Linked DNA regions of Homo sapiens: region 1 is linked to region 2. A link means that fine-mapping ties the variant in region 2 to the expression of a gene that starts in the linked region. Tissue or cell type: gastroesophageal junction. Region 2 holds a variant in brackets; the other region holds the start of a gene. All regions are shown on one strand. Distances are from middle to middle.

The links. PIP is the estimated chance that this variant, and not a neighbour inherited with it, causes the effect.
Region 1: GGH starts here. The variant in region 2 is fine-mapped to the expression of GGH in gastroesophageal junction (GTEx, PIP 0.97).

What each region holds. Positions count from the first base shown.
Region 1 is chr8:63,033,799-63,044,358 of GRCh38, forward strand. GGH (gamma-glutamyl hydrolase) reads right to left here and starts at 5,008. Exons shown (of 9, transcript NM_003878.3): 1 at 4,862-5,008; 2 at 1,858-1,972. The coding sequence starts at 4,970. RefSeq lists a silencer at 5,042-5,401.
Region 2 is chr8:63,111,432-63,121,991 of GRCh38, forward strand. No RefSeq gene overlaps it. Among named protein-coding and RNA genes, the nearest start is that of TTPA, 31 kb to the left of the region's middle. The variant T/C (reference allele first, on the strand shown) is at 5,101.

The DNA.
Region 1 (10,560 bases), 78 kb before region 2:
CATCTATTGCTGCCATCTTTGGGTCCATGTGTACCCAATGTTTAGCTCCCACTTATAAGTGAGAATATGTGGTATTTGGTTTTCTGTTTCTGCATTAATTCACTTGGGCCTCCAGCTGCATTCACATTGCAGCAAAGGATATGATTTCATTCTTTTTTATGGCTGCTCTGCCTTTTGTCTCTCCTTATATATATATATATATGTCTCTCCTTATATATATATATAATATATATAAAAATATATATATATTTTTATATATATCTCCCATCCACACGGTCAGCACTAACATCCCAGAAGAACAGCTTGCATTAAAAAGTTTCCCTGATGAAAACTTTGAAACACTGTTCTGAAGACTCTCTGGAGCCTCTTCCTCAGCTCTAAAACTCTGGCGTTATATGGGCTTCAAATAAAATTTCGTTTGAAAAATTAGATAGGCTACTAAAATATTAAAGACTAATATCAAAAGCAAATGGCAATCTTGGTGTAGAAACAGTTAATTTAAATGTAAAAGATCATACAAGAAGACAATTCTTATAAATCTAAACCTAAAGCCATTTTGTGGTACAATTCTCTAAATTGTAATATTTGCATTTTATTAGTAGTATTATATTTGAACAGTATTTTTGTTATAATTTTTGATGAGGAATTGTTTGCAAAAACAGGCTGTACAGAATAAATAGTGTTTTATGTGTGAAATCACTCAAAATGGATTAGATGAGGTGCTCAAAGATTCTAAAATACATTAATTTTAGCTGACAAGACATTACAAATCCTTATAAGATTCTGGTTGTTAGCTCCTTCCAGATGAAAAATATGGGAAGAATTCAGTTCTAAATGAAAATGAGATGAATCATTTTATTCTTATAGGAACATTTTATCACAAAAATAATGCAGTGCCTTTAAAACTGCAATACCTATAATCCACACTGAAGCAACCCTAATGCACTGGTAATTTACAAACTTTTAAAGTAGAGTGTGAAGGTATTTTAAAAGTCATCTTCTAAAAACCTCCTTCATTCCCTAACTGTTCTCTTATCCTAATATTATAGAACAAAGCTGGTTAAATTGTAGATTCATTAAAATTTTTTTCTTATTTCAATAGCCTTTGGGGTAAAAATGGTTTTTGGTTACATGCATGAACTGTATAGTGATGAAGTCTGAGATTTCAATGAACCAGCCACCCGAGCAATGTACACTGTACCCAATATGTAATTTTTTATCCCTCACCCCGCCCCCCCAACCACTTTAGATTATTTTACTCCATTACCTTCATAGTGTCTGTGAGAACCACCTTTTCTGGGATAAAGGAAACTATCATTTCATTCTTGATGTTAATGCATATGACATATGGTACCTCTAATGACGTTACAGGTAACACACAGCTTCCCACATTAAACAATTCAATGAGAGACTCTAAGCAACATGTTTGTGTCAAAAATCAGGTGCAATGTTACTGCATTTAAACAATGTAATCATAAGAGAGAAAGCACGAATTTTAGAGATATTAGGCAGTAATTATTATTTTGAGATGGAGTCTCGATCTGTTGCCCAAACTGGAGTGCAGTGGTGCGATCTCAACTCACTGCAACCTCCACCTCCCTGGTTCAAGCGATTCTCCTGCCTCAGCCTCCCCAGTAGCTGGGATTACAGGAGTGCACTACTGCACCCAGCTAATTTTTGTATTTTTAGTAGAGACAGGGCTTCACCAGGTTGGCCTGGCTGGTCTCGAACTCCTGACCTCAGTAGTCCACCCGCCTTGGCCTCCCAAAGTGCTAGAATTACAGGCATGAGGCACCGCACCCGTACGCAGCAATTTTTTATACAGAGTAAAAAAAAAAAAAAAACACTGAATCATACCTTACTGGTACAACTCTCGCACCTGCAGACTCCAAGTACTTTACATAGGACGCAGCAATATAGTATCTTCCATAGTTTTTCATGACTTTATTACGGCATTTTTGCATTAATATTCCTAATAACAAAAAAAAGTTTAGTTTCAAGCAAATTCCTTTTCTTCTTGCTCAGAAACTGAAATATATCACAGCAAAAATATCATATTTTATTATTTCAATCCACAGAATTAAATAGGAAGTCTCTCCTCCAAGTCCACCCATAGCCTATGGGAAAGCAGCAGGGGAGGCTGATCTTACTTTCAAGTAGATCTATCTCTCACCTCATTAGGGAGGCCAAATAAGCCCCCAAAGAAGGCTTACAATAGCACTTGCAGCCTTCACACAACTGTAGACCTAGAATCCATCTAAAGAATATAGATCCTTAAATTTACAAGGCTGTCACTCCTTTCCCACACATACTCACAGACACACTGATTCCCTGACAACGAAGCAAAGGAGTGAAAACATCTTCCATCCACACCTCTCCAACATTACCTTAGCCCAAGCTATCAATATCTACCCTCTCCCCACCACACTATCATAATAGACTCTTAGAAGGTCTTGTTATATCTTTTCTTAAGAAACCCCCCCAAGCTCCAAGCAGCTCCCCATGTAGAAGCAAATCGGATCATATCACCATTCCTATTCCTACAGTCATTCAATATATACTGTTGAATCATACCTCATGCCAGGCAACAAACTAGCTGCTGGGGACACATGACTATGAGTGAACCAAACAAAAGCCCCTGCCCTGTGTGCATTAATTCGAGGGTGTAGCAGGGAGGGGAAAGAGGACAAACAATAAACAAGACAAAAAGGCATAATATATAGAGTGATGGCTGGTCGTAAGCACTAAGGAGAGAAAGACGGTGGGGAAGGAGAGCCCATCTATGTAGGAAAGGACAGTCTCTTCAACACGGTGGCCAGGCAAGTCCTCCCTGAGAAGGTAAAACATGACATTTGAGCCAGGACTTCAGAGAGGTGACAGAGTAAACCACATTCATATATCTGGGAAAAGAGCAATCCAGGACAAAGGAATAGCAAGTGCAAAGGCCAGGAGTCAGATTTGTGCCTGTCACGTTGCAAGGAATCCATATTATTAGAGCCAGGTGAGTGAAAGCAGAAAGCAATAGGAAAGGACATCAGGTAGCGATAGATCAGCAAGCAGGTGTCACCACTTTGTTTAACTACCTCAGTGGGTCCCTAAACTTTAATAAACTCTGTAAGACCCGTATGCTCTGCCCCACCCATCTCTCTGGCCTCCTTTTACCAGTGAAACCCAGCCCCAGCAGAGTATAGCAACCAGTATACATCAAAACACGTCTGTCGGGTGAGTACCTGTGCCTACTCCTATTCAGCACTTCAGCATTTGGAACACTTTCAGTGTCTCTGTAGGCCACCTGATAGGAAGAGCTGTTGTCTGTATTACTCACTTTTGTATTCCCAGCTTCTTACAATTGGCATTCATCAGGTATTCAGATTAACATGTCAAACGCCAAAATTTGTTCAGTAAAACTTTTTCTCCTTACTGGTAGGTAAGATCATCTTCACTAAGGAATAACAAAGTTTGGCTAGGGAACGAAGAACTAGGAGTGTCATAGGAAATGGAGTGGTACAGGGTACATGGGGTGAGGTACCACAAAGGAGACATGGGGCATCATGGGAGCACAAGGGTACCAGAAAGAGAAGTACATCAGAGTGAGTTCCACCAACATCTCCCCTTCCCCTGGGCCCACGCATATTCACTTTTCCCATCCCTGGGAAAAGAGCTCAAGCTGTTCTCCCTGTCCCTCAAAATATGACCAAAATTCCACCAATAATTTAAGGCCATCTCACAACTTTTGTGGCTTGTCATCTTTCAATCCTTTGCACTTCCCAGAGCAAGATTGTGTACATAGTCGGTACTCAGTTAACGATGTTGTGCTGATCTCAGTGACCAAAAGCAAAGTCCCTTTTTTAAATATTTGACGCAGGGCTACCCCTGATTCTAGGAAAGGGGAAGAATCCCCTCTGCTTTTTTTTCTCTTCTCTGGACACACAATATGCAACCTGTTACATTAATTACAGCTTGAGTTAATTCGTGGAGAATCAAATCACCATGTTAAACAGCTATGAAATAAGTTCCAAATATTAGTAAGCAACCCATTTGAAAACTGGGCACTACCTATATGAAAAAACATTCATCTACTTTCTGTTTAGTTACAGAATACAGTGATAATATTCATAGAAAAAAATAGTATGAAAGGCATAATCCTACAGCCAAAATAAAACTAATCTTAATGTCCACACACAAATTTCTTTGGGCAAATTTTAACCCCAGGATGATTTCTCCTAGGTAGCTTTCCTTGGGCCTGTCTCAAATGTGTGTTTTGGTAACACAGACTGATTTTACTACCTCTTTAAAACACAAATATGTTGGAAACGAAAAATTGTGGGCTGCATTTTAACACCAAATAGAACTCACATTAGGATATCAGCCACTGTTGTCCTCTGCTACTGAACATGACAAAATCCAAGTTATACCTTAATTTCTTGATTTTCTATTACAATGCACTGGTATTTTAAATACGCCATCAATACATTTTGATGAATGCAATGCATGTACAGAATTTGTAGATGTAAATGAGTAAAACTTCCCAACTATGTGCGAAAAGGAAATGTTTTATTTTAGTAGAAATTCCTAGCTGTGTACAAAAAAAGAAAATCCGCAGGATTCTTCATGGTGCACCCTCCTCCCTCCCACCTTTAAGAGTCATATGAGTCTAAAGGAATGAACGAGGTACCTCAACCAGGTACATTTCAGTACGACCTAAATGGTGCCCAGCCCGGGTTCCTCCTTGCACCAAAAGCGAAGCACATCTGGGGGTTTTTCCCGGCGGGACGCGCCAGCTGGAGCGCGGCGGCGGGAGGCGCCCAGCGCCAACACCCAGCTCCTCCCCGTCTGCTGCGGCCCCGCACAGCCTCCTTACCGATGATGGGCTTCTTGGCGGTGTCGCCGTGGGGTCTAGACAGCTCGAGGCTCGCCGCCCCGCAGAGTAGCAGGCCCAGCACGCACAGCAGGCAGCCCGGACTGGCCATGGCGCTCGCCGCCTCCCGCCGCCTTTCAAAAGCTCTGCGGGCGGGCGGGGGCTGCGGCAGGGACACCTCGCGGCAGCGCACTCGCGTGAGACTCGGGTGGGCGGTGCTCCGCAGCGTGGGCCTATGGGAAATGCAGTCCCGGCGCGCGCTAGGCGGCCGTGGGGCGGCGGTGGGAGGCTCTGGGAGTGCAGCCGGCGCTGCGCGCCCGCCCCATTGCTCTGTCCCCGGTCCGCGACCGCGACCGCGACCCCGACCCCCACGGGCCGCCTAAGCGGAGACTCTGGAAACGCCTGGGGCGGGTACCGGGTGGTCTCCGCGTCCTTCCCTTTCAACTGTTACGTCGATGTGGACTTCAGTCACCCGTACAAAGCTGGGCTGGCCAACCCAGGTCCTCGAGAGGGGAGGTTGGGTGTCCCCGGCCGAGTTTGGTAACCAGGCAGCGGGGAGGCTGGCAGGGGATTCTAGAAGGCGCCTGAGAACTGCGCGCCAACCGCACCGCCCCCTTGAAGGTCGGGGCCCTATCTCCGGGAATGGTGACAACGTTCGCTGTACGGACAGCCTGTGCCCCTGAATGTGAATGTCCACACTTGCTATTTGGGGGGTCGCGGCATCTGTAGGAAGTGAAGACGGGACGGCGATAGGAACACACGCACAGGCGCATCACTAGGGTCAGAACTGGGCCAACTCCGGGCGTCTACTTTGAAGCGGGCACGCCCAGGCCACGCCTGCAAACGGCGTCAGCTTCCTCTGATCAACCGCGGTCAGCGCCATCCACCGACCACCACTAAGCCTATCCACCGGGGCAGAAAAGATGACTGGTTCCTATTCGTTAAAACTGTTGATTGTTCCTAAATACATGGATATATAGCTTGTACTCAGTGAAAGTTTCCATCTATAAGGGCCAACTGAAATTCAGCATAAAACAAGAATATTTGAAAACCTGCTACATCAATGCTCAGTATTAAGGGTGAAAACGTAAATTGGACAGTCTTTTTCACAAGAGGTTTAAATTCAGTAAGGAAAAAAGGCAGAAAGCGTGACTCGTAGAGACAACAGGAACAATTTTAGCATGTTGCAAGAAGAGTAAATGCAGTGAATAGTCTGGTTTAACAAGAAAATAACGCTTCTGTAGAAGGGTGTGGTGAGAGGTAAGCAACAAAGGATGTGATGAAAGACATGAAAGGGCCGAGCTGGTTTTGAGCATGATTAAATAGACAAGTAGCCTTGTAAATATGAACTTGTGGTGCCAGAATAATTGACTATCCACATAGGAAAAATTTTTTACCCGGCGTTACACACAAAAATAAACTCGAGGTGAAGTGCATATGTAAATACGAAAGCAAAATATTATACTTTGATAAGAAAATATATAAATATATCTTCCTAACTTAGGCTGTTGGAAGAGTTTCATAAAACATTAAAAATAAAAATGTTAATTAAAAATTGACTATATAAGAAAATTAAAGTTAAAGCACAAACTTGGAAAATATAGTTATAAAATATAAAGTATTTCTAAAATATGCGAAGAAATAATAAGAAAAATGACACAATAGAAAAATGGAAAAAGAATGTGAAAAGCAAACCAAACTTTCTGTAGTCATCAGAAAAATGCAAGATAATATGTCACATCCATTAGACTGTGTAGAAAAACAGCCTGTTTCCTGGCAAGAGTGACACCATCTTGAAGCAAAACTATCCTGGGGACTGATGTTTGACCCACAGCATACCGAGGTGTTCTGCAGCAAAGGTCTTTAAACAATGCTCATAACATATATAACCCCTCATAAAGATGCTTATCTAACGTCCCCAGTGATCACAATAGTCTAAGAGCTAACTAGTTGCACTTGTCTTTACCCTAGAGGCTTGCTAAATAAAGCATACTTTCTGGAGGGCAAGTGCAGGGGTCGCTTCTGTTTGTCTCTACTAAGTATTTCTTTCTGAGAAATTCGATTGGTCAGCCTCTTTGGTCTCCCAGCTTCCTCCATCTTTGGAAGCAGGTTTCTGTAAATTGACAAAAATGTAAGCCTTTGATAATAAGTCAAGGATGTAGTAAAATGACAGTTCTCTGCATTTCTTGTGGAATTGTAATTATTATAACTATTTTTGAGAAAAATTAAGCAATATCTGGTAAAGGTGAAGATCTAAATGTTCTGTAACCCAGTACATTCTGGATATAAGTGTGTACCTAGATTAATGCGTGCTCATGTGAACAAAAAAAATATGTGTAAGTATGCTCTTTGGAGCATCTTTTTGTAATAGTAAAATATTAAATGTAAATGACCAATGTCATAAAGTTTTTCCCATGTGTTTTCTTCTAGTAATTTTACAGTTTCAGGTCTCATATTTAACTGCTTAATTCACTTTAGTTGATTTTTGTTCATGGTGAGAGATAAGGGTCTAATTTCCAGATTTTCCAACACTGTTTATTGAAGAAGATGCCCTTTCCCCATTGTGTGTTCTTGGCACCTTTGTCAAAAATCAATTGACAGTATATGTATTGGTTTATTTTTGGGCCTTCTATCCTAGTGCATTGGTCAATGCCCGTAATTTTATGCCAGTACCATGCTAGTTTGATTAAATTACTATAATTATAATATGTCTTGAAATCAGAGTATGATGGCTTCAACTTTGATTTTTTTTCTCAAGATTGTTTTAGGTATGTGGGGTCTTTTGTGGTTTCATACAAATTTAAGGATTTTTTTACATTTATGTGAAAAAAGTGACACTGGAATTTTGTAGAGATTACAATGAATCTGTATATTGCCGTAGGTCAGTCATATAGACATGTTCCCAATTTTAATTCTTCCAATCCATGAACATGAGATATCTTTCCATTTGCTTGTATTTTCTTATTTACTTGTATTTTTATGTGTTTTATAGTTTTCAGTGTACAGGCCTTTTACCTGCTCATTAAATTTACACCTAAGTATTTAATTTTTTGTTACTATTTTAAAGGGGATGGTCTTGTTAATTTCATTTTAATTTGTTATTACTATATAAAAATGCTGCTGACTTTTATATGTTGATTTTGTATTCTGTAACTTTACTGTTAATTTATCAGTTCTAATAGTTTTTTGGTGGATTCATATATAAGATCATGTCATAGAAAATAGGGATATTTTCACTTCTTCATTTCCTATTAGGCTTCAAATTTTTCCTCTTGCCTAATTGCTTTAGCTGGGACTTACGGTACTATATTGAAAAGAAGTGGTGAGAGTAGGCATACTTGTCTTGTCACTGATCTTAGAGGAAAAGCTTTCAGTGTTTTACTGTTGAGAATGATATTAGCTAAGGGTTTGTCATATGTAGCCTTTATTGTGTTGAGGTACATTCCCTCTATACCTATACCCAATTTGTTAAGAGTTTTTTTTGTTGTTGTTTTTGTTTTTTTTTTTTTGAGATGGAGTCTTGCTCAGTTTCCCAGGCTGGAGTGCAGTGGCGTGATCTCAGCTTACTGCAAGCTCCACCTCCCAGGTTCACGCCATTCTCCTGCCTCAGCCTCCAGAGTAGCTGGGACTACAGGCGCCCACCACTACACCAGGCTAATTTTTTTGTATTTTTAGTAGACAGGGTTTCACTGTGTTAGCCAGGATGGTCTCAATCTCCTGACCTCGCCATCTGCCCGTCTTGGCCTCCCAAAGTGCTGGGACTACAGGTGTGAGCCACCGCGCCTGGCCTTGTTAAGAGTTTTATTATAAAAGGATGTTGGGATTTTTCAAATGTTTTTTCTGCATGTATTGAAATCATTATATGATTTTTATCCTTGATTAATGTGGTATATCACATATTGATTTGTGTGTGTATATATGTCTATTATAGTAGATATAGGCAATGTATATTGTAATGTCTCCTCTTTCTTTTCTAATCTTGTTTGAGTAGGCTCTTGTTTTCCTAGTTAGTCTAGCTATGGGTTTGTCAACTTTATCTTTTCAAAAAACCAACTTAGTTTTGTTGATATTTTCTATTGTTTTTCTAGTCTCTATTTCATTTATTTCTGTGCTGATTTTTGTTATTTCCCCTCTTCTGCTATCATTGGGCTTAGTTTATACTTATTTTTCTAGTTTCTTGAGTGGTAATGTTAGATTATTTGTAACCTTTCTTTTTTTATATAGGTGTTCATTGCTATGAATTTCCCTCTTAGGATTGCTTTTGCTGTCTCCCATAAGTTTTGATACATTGTCTTACCATTTTCTTTTGTCTCATGGTAATTTTTTATTTTCTATTTGCTTTCTTCTTTAACCTATTGGTTGTTTAGGAGCATGTTGTTTCATTTCCACACATTTGTGTATTTTCCAAGATATCTCCTGTTACTGATTTCTGGTTTCATTCCATTGTGATCTCAAAAGATACTTGATATGATTTCAATTCTCTTAAATTTGTTAAGATTTGTTTTGTGCATTAACATATGGGCTATCCTGGAGAATGTTCTATGTGCACTTAAGAAGGATGTGTATTTTGTTGCTATTGGATACAGTGTTCTGTATATTTCTGTTTGGTCTATTTACTCTAAAGTGTAATGCAAGTCCATAGTTTCTTTATGGATTTTCTCTCTAGATGATCTGTCCATTACTGAAAATGGAATATGGAGAGCCCTACTGTAATATTATTAAATTATATTTTTTCCTTTAGATCATTTAGTAATTGCTTTATGTATTTAGGTGCTCTGATTTTAGGTGGGTGTATATTTACAATAGTTATGTCTTTGTGGTGATTTAACTTCTTTGTTATTATATAATAGCCTTCTTTTTCTCTTTTTATAGTATTTAACTTAAATCTATTTTGTCTGATATAAGTGTAGCTACCTCTGCTCTTTTCGTTTCTGTTTGCATGGAATATCTTTTCCATCCCTTCACTTTCAGTCTATGTGTGTCCTTATTACTAAAGTGAGTCTCTTGTGTGCAGCTTATGATTAGATCTTGCCTGACATGCATGTGCAAGCGACTCCACTGCCACCACCCTGATGAAGTGCTTTGGTTGGCACTCCTCATCAGAGTATTGTTACCAGCAGACTGGGAGCACCTTAGCTCCTAAGGTGCAGTAGGTGCTTAACCTCAAGGGGCCAGAGAACAAAGCCATGGGCCTGGTACTAGACCTCCAGGATTATAGCAAGCAGCTCAAGAGTACTTAGCTGAGCTTTGGTCCCCTGAAATCTTCCAGAAAGAAAACCAGTCAACTAAACCCAACTTATACCACAGTCAAACCCTCAGGGTATCAAAGAATATAAAAGCAGAAAACCCCATCCAAAGAACAGCAACTTTAAAGTTTAAAGAAACATCAGGCCACTGTGTTCCTGGCCTGAGAAACAACCAGTGCAAGAACTCTGGCAACTCAAAAAGTCAGAGTGTCTTCTTACATCCAAGTGATAGTACTAACTCCTCAGCAATGTTTCTTAACCAGGCTGAAATGGCTAAAATGAGAGACATAGAATTCACAATCTGGATAGGAATGAAGGTCATTGAGATTCAGGAGAAAGTTGAAATAAAATAATGCAAGAGATGAAAGACAAAATAACCATTTTAAGAAAGAACGAAACCAATCTGAAGAAGCTGAAAAACTCACTACAATAATATAATAATAAAATTGCAAGTAT
Region 2 (10,560 bases):
GAGGAGGGGGATCACTTGAGCCCAAGAGTTAGAGTCCAGCTTGGGCAACATTGTAAAATCCCATCTCAAAAAAAAAAACTGGAAGCAACTTTATATTTGTAAAACTCCTTTTTTTCTAGTTATAAGTTGAAACTTACCCATCTTATGTATTTTACAAAGTAAAAAAGTCTACTAGGTTAAAACTCATTCATAATTCCCCCATTCAAGTATGTATGTAATTTCAGACATTTTTTTCTATGTCCATGGGTGTACATTTACATTTCAAAATGGAGTTTATGTTGTAGTACTGTTTTCATTTAACACTTCGTTGGTTACATCAAGCTATTAAATATCTATTACAATGTTTCATGGATGGATTCAGTTAAAATATATGTAATTTGAACATATATCTTGGCAAATAAGCAAAAGAGAAAACTTTGAAAAAGATAGGCTGGAAGTTGAGTCTGAAAATTCTATGAACTAGATAAGCAACCTCAGGCTAAATCTGTTGAAGGTCAGTTTGTTATCAATAAAACTTGAATAAAGTCAATTTCATAAGGTTAATAGGAATAAATGGCACATTGTGCAAATAAAAAACTAGTATACAGAGATAATTAATAAATAGTAACTATAGCTATAAGTTGGTTGATGCAAATTTAATAGATATAAAAATCATTTAGCTGGCCGGGTGTGGTGGCTCACACCTGTAATCCGAGCACTTTGGGAGGCTGAGGTGGGCAGATTACTTGAGGCTGGGAGACCAGCCTGGCCAACATGATGAAACCACTAAAAACAAACAAACAAACAAACAAAAATTAGCCGGGCATGGTGACGGGGGCCTATAATCTCAACTACTCCAGAAGCTCAGACAGGAGAATTGCTTGAACCCGGAGGTGGAGGTTGCAGTGAGCCGAGATTGCACCACTGCACTCCAGGCTGGGCTACAAAGCAAGACTCCATTTCTAAATAAATAAATAATTTAGTTATGCTGGAAAGTCATTCCATGGTTATTAAAATTAATCTGTCACAACTAAGCCTTAAAACTTCTTTATTTTGAAGAACATTCATAGAATTTGCTTAAAAATTAAATTGATTTAATAAAATGTTAAATTTTTATAGCACGCATGTTTTATTAATATAATATCTGTCTGAAATTAAATAAAAATGAGAGCTGGGTGCAGTGGCATGGGCCTGTAATCCCAGCTACTCAGCAGGCTGAGGTGGGAAGATTGCTTCAGCCCAGAATTTCCAGGCTACAGTGAGCTACGATAATGCCACTGCACTCCAGCCTGGGTGACAGAGTGAGACCTTGTCTCTAAAAAATAAGTAAAATGAGTCAAATGCATACCATTTTATGAAGTTGTAAGAATAATGTGGTTTCAGCTTTTACTTCTATGTATTTAATTACTATACATCTAATGTCATGATCTGTCATGACATACTTCATATGTCTTCACTCTTGGACATATTTAGGGCATTTAAAAAATGAGATTAAACAAGTAAACAATATGAATATATTGTTACATGTGTTTTTAAATTTTAACTAATGTATGTGTGGTGAATGTTCATAGTTTCCATTATTTTCTTATTTCTAAACTGTTATGATCATTATCTGTATTTATACATCTTTGCATGCAGCCAATGCAGAAATGAAATTGTAAAAATAGTGACCAATTTTTTTTAATTTTTAAAAAAGAAATGAAATTGTGGGAATAATGGCAAGTTTAGAGTAGCGATTATAACTTTTTTTTTTTCTTAGAGATAGAGTATCATTCTGTCACTGAGTCTGGAGTGCAATGGTACAATCATAGCTCACTATACCCTCACACTTCTGGGGTCAAAAGATCCTTGCAACTCAGCCTCCTGAGTACCTGGGACCACACGCATGCACCATTATCAGCCGGCTAATTTTTGGTATTTTACATAGTGAGGGGGAGGTGGGGGATGCCTCAATATGTTGCCCAGGTTGGTCTTGAACTCCTGTCCTCAAGCACTTCTCCCACTTTGGCCCCCCGAAGTGCTAGGATTACAAGCATAAGCTGCTGTAACTTGCCATTATTCCCACAATTCCCCAGCCTGTGCCAGACAGGTTGTTCTTTAAGGAATCATCCCACAAAGGCAGAGGTAACTCCTTAAAACAAATTAAAAGTAAGCAATTTTATGGTGACCACTAGTAATCTCTCTTATGATCCAGCTAGATCCAGGTGTTGAGTTTACAATACCTAAAAGAATATTCGGAGTACATCCTAGTTCAGGCTCTGTGGAAATAACGTCTGAGATGGTGATCTGCACACAGGGAGTTTATTGGGGCGTGCGCTCAGGAGGAACACCTATAGGGGTGCCAGGGAAGTAAACTGGGCAGAACTTAAACTGTGATGCAGCAGCTGGAGAGGCTTCAGTCAATCCCAGAGAGAGACCTGGAGCTGGATCGCCCTTCAGAGATGAAGGAAAGAAGGTCACCTGTGCCCTCACCCCAACCAATAGCTGGATGGAAGCTGTCTCCAGGGAGAGGACGTAACCTTGGATAAGTCAGCCTCCTTCTGCTAAGGGTGATTTCTGAAGAGGAACTGTGAGACATCAGTAGCCAACAGTGTGAGCAGCTGGGGAAATGAGTGTGTCAGTCCTGAAGGGCCAGATCTGGAAAATACACCACAGCAGCCAGCACAAAGTATAAATTCTCTGTCAGTCTTCCCAGAACATGACTTCTCTCACTCAGCTGAGATATTGATAACATCTCAGCAATTGATACATAATGCTTGACCGTTACTGAAACTGCAGATTTTCTCTGCTGTCACTTAAATAGACTCATGTGTGTTATCAGGCAAGTCAGAGGTCTGACATTCTCTGTGAAAACTGAGAAAACTAACCAAAAATTGCATCTGAATGAAGGCCACTACTTCTCCAAGGAGATAGATGATCCAAAGAAGTATGTATGCTGAAGGTCAGATCCAGAATCTACTTATAATTTTTTTAAATTTCTTTCCAAAAGGTAGATAAACAAGGGCTTGAGGTCCTGAAAGTCCATTCTACATAGCATGGCAGCTTGGCCTCAAAAATTTCAGCCTGCAAAATGAGGAGGCACTCTGAGGTTTCTAAGCTTCATTCAGTTAGAATAGAAGGTAGTCGCTAAAGACATTCAAAGAATCAGCAGTATGTTGAGAAGGAAACTAGCTAACTGCATTAATCTTGATCAAGATGAAGACTTGCCATAAAATGCACCACAAGTCCTGAAGCTGGTGAAAGGAAGTTTCTTCATAATTATAGTGTTCCTTAATGTTTTCTGTAGACTCCAAATGGAGTTGGAGGAATTCTATTTCCCCCGATGATTATGCTTTAACAGGATCTATTTTTCTCTTTTGAATTCCTAGGGCATCCTCTTAGATATTCAAACAACATTTCTCCATTTCTTGGATACTGGAGTGTACATGACAAACTTTATGTTCTGTATTGATGTGCCTAAGATTCTGCAACTTTTGGCAGAAAAGTATTTGCAAAATACTTTTCTATTTGTCTGGTGCTTTCTTTTTTCTTTTCTTTTTTTTTTCTTTTCTTTTTTTTTTTTTTTTTTTTTTTTTGAGACAGAGTCTTGCTCTGTTGCCCAGGCTAGAGTGCAGTGGCACGATCTCGGCTCACTGCCAGCTCCACCTCCCGAGTTCACGCCATTCTCCTGCCTCAGCCTCCCAAGTAGCTGGGACTACAGGCACCCGCCACCACACCTTGCTAATTTTTTGTATTTTTAGTAGAGACAGGGTTTCACCGTGTTAGCCAGGATGGTCTCGATCTCCTGACCTTGTGATCCACCCACCTCAACCTCCCAAAGTTCTGGGATTACAGGGGTGAGCCACCGCGCCCAGCCGGTGCTTTCTTAACTTCTCCAGGTATGTTGGGAAAGATTGCCTTCTCCACTTGGTGTAGTCACTATTAATTCCTCCAACTGTCAGCCCCTCTCAGTCCATTCCTGGCCCATCTGTCCTGTGGCATCGCCCTACTGTGCTCCCTCTCAGATTCTCATTTCCATCAGTCAGCGATTCTGAGTATATTCTAAGTGCATTCAAGTCTAATTATGTAAAAGAATCATTTCTCCAAAGAAGCAACATAATTCTGCTAAAGCCTATTCTGATCATCTTTATAAGTTATTATTTTTTTGATTTCACGTTTCATAAATTATTTATGAGGTTGAACATTTCTCACATGTTTATTGGTCATTTGGGTATTTTCTCTGATGAATTCCTGGCTATTGTCTTTGCCCATTTTTCATTGAAAATGTGTTTTTATTTCTATTGATTTGTACGTGACCTTTATCCATTAAGGATATCAATCCATTTTTCCTCAATCTGTTTTTTTTTTAGTAAAATGTAGAGAAAAATAATGACTTACCAAAACGACTTCAAATTTAACCTTTGCAATTGAGTTCAACATTCTCCCATCATAAACTGACATCTTTTTAAATATGTTCATAAATCTGTCTATGATATCACCGTTCTTCTCATCTCTAAGCTTGGAATTTTCTTTTTCCTTTTTGTTTTTAAGAGACAGAGTCTCACTCTGCTGCCCAGGCTGGAGTGCAGTGTTATGATCATAGCTCTCTGTAGCCTCAAACTCCTGGGCTCAAGTAATCTTCCCATTTCAGCCTCTGGAGTAGCTGAGACAACAGATGTGCACCACCATGCCTGGCTATTTTAATTTAAAATTTTTTGTACAGATGGGGTCTGGCTACGATGCCCAGGCTGGTCTCAAACTCCTGACCTCAAGCAATCCTCCTGACTCGGCTTCCCAAAGTTGTAGGGCTAAGGATATATCTATTTGTTATGTACTAAATGCTTATAAATTATTTATATTATAAAATATAGACAAGCATTTTACAGTATGATATAAAGAAGAAATAATTTAAAATCGTTTAGTTTTACTAATGGTATAAAGATACTTTTTGCTCTTACTATTAATATTTTTGCTGAGTACTGAGTGAATATGCATAATCATTTTTATTTTGAGTAATCATTTTTCAATACAACAATCAAAAGTTAAATTGTAAGTTCAGCTTATTTTGATAATCAGCTGTATTTTTAAAAGATACCTCTCGGTGCGGTGGCTCACGCCTGTAATCCCAGCACTTTGGGAGGC[T/C]GAGGTGGGCAGATCACGAGGTCAGGAGATCAAGACCATCCTGGCTAACATGGTGAAACCCCGCCTCTACTAAAAATAAAAAAAATCAGCCAGGTGTGGTGGCACGTGCCTGCAGTCCCAGCTACTCGGGAGGGCGAGACAGGAGAATCACTTGAACCCAGGAGGCAGAGGTTGCAGTGAGCCAAGATCGCACCACTGCCCTCCAGCTTGGGCGACAGAGCAAGACTCGGTCTCAAAAAAAAAAAAAAAATTAAAAATAAAAAGATACCTCACAAAAATATGTAGATCCAATACTTGCTATTCAATTTCATACACTTATTCAAAAGTTTTCATTGAAAATCAATGAAAACTTAATACTTCCACTTTTCCTAATGTCAATTAGCTGTTTCCTAATGTCAATTAACTAGAAGGTGCTGTATTTTCAAATTTTTAAAAGCACTGGAATCTCACTGAAGTGCTTCATTTTAAAGTGAAGGACTTTAGAATATGTTTAAAAATTCTGTTTCTAAGTAAGTTTCCTAAGCATGTGGAGATATGAGAATTTGTATAGGTGATATATTTGTTCCAAAAATACAATTATATCATAATTTTAAAAACATTTGGTGTCAAAATACTTCTGTTTATTTTATGGAAAAAAACAACTTTTGTATTTTTAATTAAAATGCCATATGAACTGACAGATAAAATGTGTGTTTTTAGGTATCCACTAGGTGGAGTAACACTAATCTAACAATACTTACCAACAAAGGTCAACAAAGTTAGAAACTCTTCCTTTTTAAGGTTTTTATTGGAAATTAACATGTACACACTACGTAAGAATAATTAAATTCAAATAAATAACAGCTCTAAATGTTAGAACTAAAACTATAAACTTCTATAAGAAAACATACAAGAAAATATTTGTGACCTTGCTTAAGGCAAACATTTACTAGATAGGATACAATAAGTATGAACCATAAAAAATAAAATTGATAAATTGGACTTAATAAAAATTGAACACTCTGGTCTTTAGAAGAACTACTATGAAAAAGGAAAAAAAAAAAAAGCCCCAGACTGGGAGAAAATGTCTCCATGAAATGTCTTGATGAAGGACATTTATATGGGATATGGAAAGAACCCTCACAAGTCAATAAGAAGACAATCAAGAGAAATCAAAATACCATAAAGAGCTATAGGTGAATGTTTATTCAAAATAGCCAAAATCTGGGAAAAAAATACATATCCATCTATTGTTAAGTAGATAAACCGATTGCGGATAAATGTGGAAAAACAATGGATAAACCTCTTTATAATGAAATACTGTTCAACAAGAAAAAGGAATGAGTGCTGGTACATGCAATAACATGGATGAATCTCAATAGTATTACAAATGATGCTAGAATGAATAACCTATATCACGCATGTAATTTTGCAAGTGTGCAAATATATATGTGTATATGTATATATGATAAATTATTTGAAGGGGGATTACTGGGTCAGAAGACATGTGTGTTTGTCATTTTGATAGATATTTCAAAATTGCCTTCCTTAGGGGCTGTATTAATTTGCATTCCTACTAGCAGTGTAGAGGGTGCTCAAAAGAGTGTATAGAAGCCGAGCAATATAGTGAGACTCCGTCTGTATAAAAAATACAAACATTAGGTGACCATGGTGGCACATGCTTGTAGTCTCATCTAGTTGAAAAGCTAAAGTGGGAGGATTGCTTGAGCCCAGGATTTCAAGGTTATAGTGAGCTATGATCATACCATTGCACTCCAGCCTGGGCAGCAGAGTGAGATGCTAGCTCAAAACAAAAAGAAAAAAAAAAAGAGTGTGTAGAATTTATGGATTTTTGCTAATCTGACAGGGAAATTATTTCTAAGCATATATTTAATTGGTATTTCTGTTTAAATAGAAGCTCTAATATGTTACCTAGTACTCTAATTGATCATCTCACAGATCTCCTCAAATACATTACTTACTATACTACCCCAAAACTGCCACACTATTTTACACTTTTGGGCTTGGTGAACCCCTACTTATCCTTCAAAACTTTTACCATCTTTATGAAGTTTTCCTTGGCTCTTTTAGACTGTGATAAGATTACTTTCCTATGAACTATTGTTATACTTTGTGTCTGCTGCCCTACATGTCATAGTGAATTAAAATTCCTGGTCCTCCCCAATTCCCTGTGAACACTTAGGCATATTGGAGGGTTTATCTAAGTTCCGTGAGACACGGCTGCAATTCATGCAACTCTCCATGCTCAGGAGCTAGCATGGTGTCTGGCACAAATTAAGGCTACGATAAATGGGTACTGAACTGAAAGGAATGGTCTGTGCAGAAACAAACATGTTTCTGTAAATATGTGTGCATGAATGAATGCACATTTATAAAGGAAATTTTCTGATGAATAAATCTGCCTAACAATATAATTCTGTATCTAATAGTGATTTGTCTCAACCCTCCCACTCTTATAACTCACATTTTAAAAACGAAAATTTATGTCATTTGTTAAGTAGTTCAGTATGGTCCAGAAGTAGCTAGTAGAATGAGAGAGCCAGGCTTCTTCATTTTATGTTGAGTTCCACCTGTTCATAATGGGCATAAATAACAAAATCATCTAAAATGCTGGTGTGGAAGGAATCTGTTACCTTTTCAGCCTCCTAGAGGCAGGGGGAAAATCCTGGTAGCACTATAAAACAAGATCTGGGGCAAGAGATAATGTGCGGCAGATATTCCAAAGTGAATGCAGGTGTCCTGAAATGTGTCACTCAGAGAAGCATGTCTGCTCTCCTTGTATTCTAAGGACATTATAGAAAGCCCTTTTGGAGAAGAGCAAGCTGGTCAACACGTCATTTGGGTCATGCAGATAGTGTAACACTTTCTGTAATGCCCTTAGAATGCTGTCTGTATTCTAAGGGCATTATAGAAAGCATTACACTACAAATCCTTCACCTGTACCAAGCACATATCCATAAACCGCCCCAGATCTAAAGGACCAAGAGAACTTCTCATTATCCATTCATCAAAGAGTAGACATTTGGGCATGATGCCTGGAAATAAACCTTATATACTAATACCTCACAAACTCAATAGGGAGGATGAATATCTTATCATCATTCACAGTCGGCGAAGATTTCTACAGAATTTGTGAATAATAGCTTAGGAGAAACAAGAAGCATTTCTTTCAGATCCATGACCACTCCTAAAGAGTCAGTGAGTCAGTGCCAGGGAAGGCGGAAGAGAACTACTATATGCTATTTAGCAAATTTTTTTTTTTTGAGACAGAGTCTCGCTCTGTTGCCCAGGCTGGAGTGCAGTGGTGCGATCTCGGCTCACTGCAAGCTCCGCCTCCCGGGTTCACACCATTCTCCTGCCTCAGCCTCCTGAGTAGCTGGGACTACAGGCGCCCACCACCACACCCGGTTAATTTTTTTTGTTGTTGTATTTTTAGTAGAGACGGGGTTTCACCGTGTTAGCCAGGATGGTCTCGATCTCCTGACCTCGTGATCCGCCCGCCTCGGCCTCCCAAAGTGCTGAGATTACAGGCGTAAGCCACCGCGCCCAGCCTATTTAGCAAATATTTTTAAAATAACTATGTGTTGGACATTACATTAGGTAATCTGGACAAAAAGTTGAATAAGGTATCATGTCTGCCCTAAAGAAGCATAGAATGTAATTCTGAGGATGAGACAGTGGTAACATCACATATTTCTACAATGCTTTTCAGTTTACAAAGAACTTTACATTGTAAATTCACACATTGTGAATTCACCTCTTTGCCCCCCTTTCTATGCTACCGGAATGTAAAGGCCATCAGCAAAATACAAAGTACTATGGAGGATCAAAAGAAAGAGATTCCTTGTGGTTGAGTAGTAGGAGTGGGGTAAGAAGTGAATACTTCATGGGGAAGGAAGCATTTTAGGTGAGCTTTGAAAGGTGAACATGTTTCAGTACACAATGATTGGTGGCAATGGTTCTATGAAACAACTTGTGCATAGACACAAAGTCAAGAGAAGATATGTATGTGAACTGGGGATTAGTGACTAGATTAAGAAAGGGAAGAATTTAGCAGAAGCATGAGGAAAATTATTTGGCTGGAAAAGTAGAAGAAGATAAGTCTAGAAATTTAGATTCAGGAATGTTCAGCTTAACTCATCCAGACTCGGGGTAGGTGAACAAATTGTGCTTTAATCTTAGGTAGGAAGATCAGGTTAGCTACAACTGAGCACCATCACAACAGGTACCCTGAGCAAAGTTGTGCCATAGGCATTTTTACCATCCTTCAAAAGAGTTCCTTATTTATTTCAAGCTACCCCTCCTAGATTAGCACCAAATTCACTTGATATTCTATATCCTCCTCCAAAAATCTTATCAAGAGTAACCTTTTCTTAATATAGTCACTAATCCTCAATTCATATACATATCTTCTTTTTCACCATTATTTCCCATGTAGCAATTGTCTCTAAATCACCAAAATTTGACTGTTCTTTTATTCATTTGCTAGTTTGTAGTTTCTGATTTTCCGTAAGGAGCAGAAAGTTTTAATAATGCAAATCTATTTTTGTAATAAAATATGATTACCTATACCTTAGATTATATCCTTCAATATTCTATTATATAAAGAATATGTGTCCTTTTTCTACAACCTAATGTCACACATACTTTTTTGCAATTTACCATTTATTGGACATGTAGGGTACCCCAAATTTTTGAAATGACACTGAAGAGCAGTTAAAAGTAGATGAAAATAAGTTAGTATTAAAAAGTACAATCCCTTTGTACACTAAATCTAGTTTGTTTGTGTTTTGTTTTTTCTTTTTTAAGTACAACCCGCCACAGTTAGGGGATGAGGGAGAAAAATTGGCAAAAAAATGCTTAAAGATGCATAAAACATTACAAAACCATCCCCATGACCCAAATGACATGTTGACCAGTTTGCTTTCCTCCAAATTATTTTCAAATAGTAATGTTTCACTATGAGTACTATACTAGCCAATGATGATATTAAAGATAAAATACCTTATAATTTGTTTTTATTTTAGGTTTGGGAGTACATGTGAATGTTTGTTACATAGGTAAACACATGTCACAGGGGTTTGTTTTACAAATTATTTCATCACCCAGATATTAAGCCCATTACCCAATAGTTATCTTTTCTACACCTCTCCCTCCTCCCACCCTCCTCCCTCAAGGAGGCCCCAATGTCTGTTGTTTCCTTCTTTGTGTTCATAAGTTCTTATCATTTAGCTCCCAAAGATGAAATACCTTATCCTTATCTTCAAGGAGCTTTAAGGGACACAGGCAACATAAAGGATTCCCAGAATGCTCCTGATATACACAGAAAGGTATCCAATCTTGGATAAAGGATCCAGAAAGATATCCTTAGGCCCAGGCAGGGGGATCACGAGGTCAGGAGATCAAGACCATGCTGGCTAACATGGTGAAACCCCGTCTCTACTAAAACTACAAAAAAAA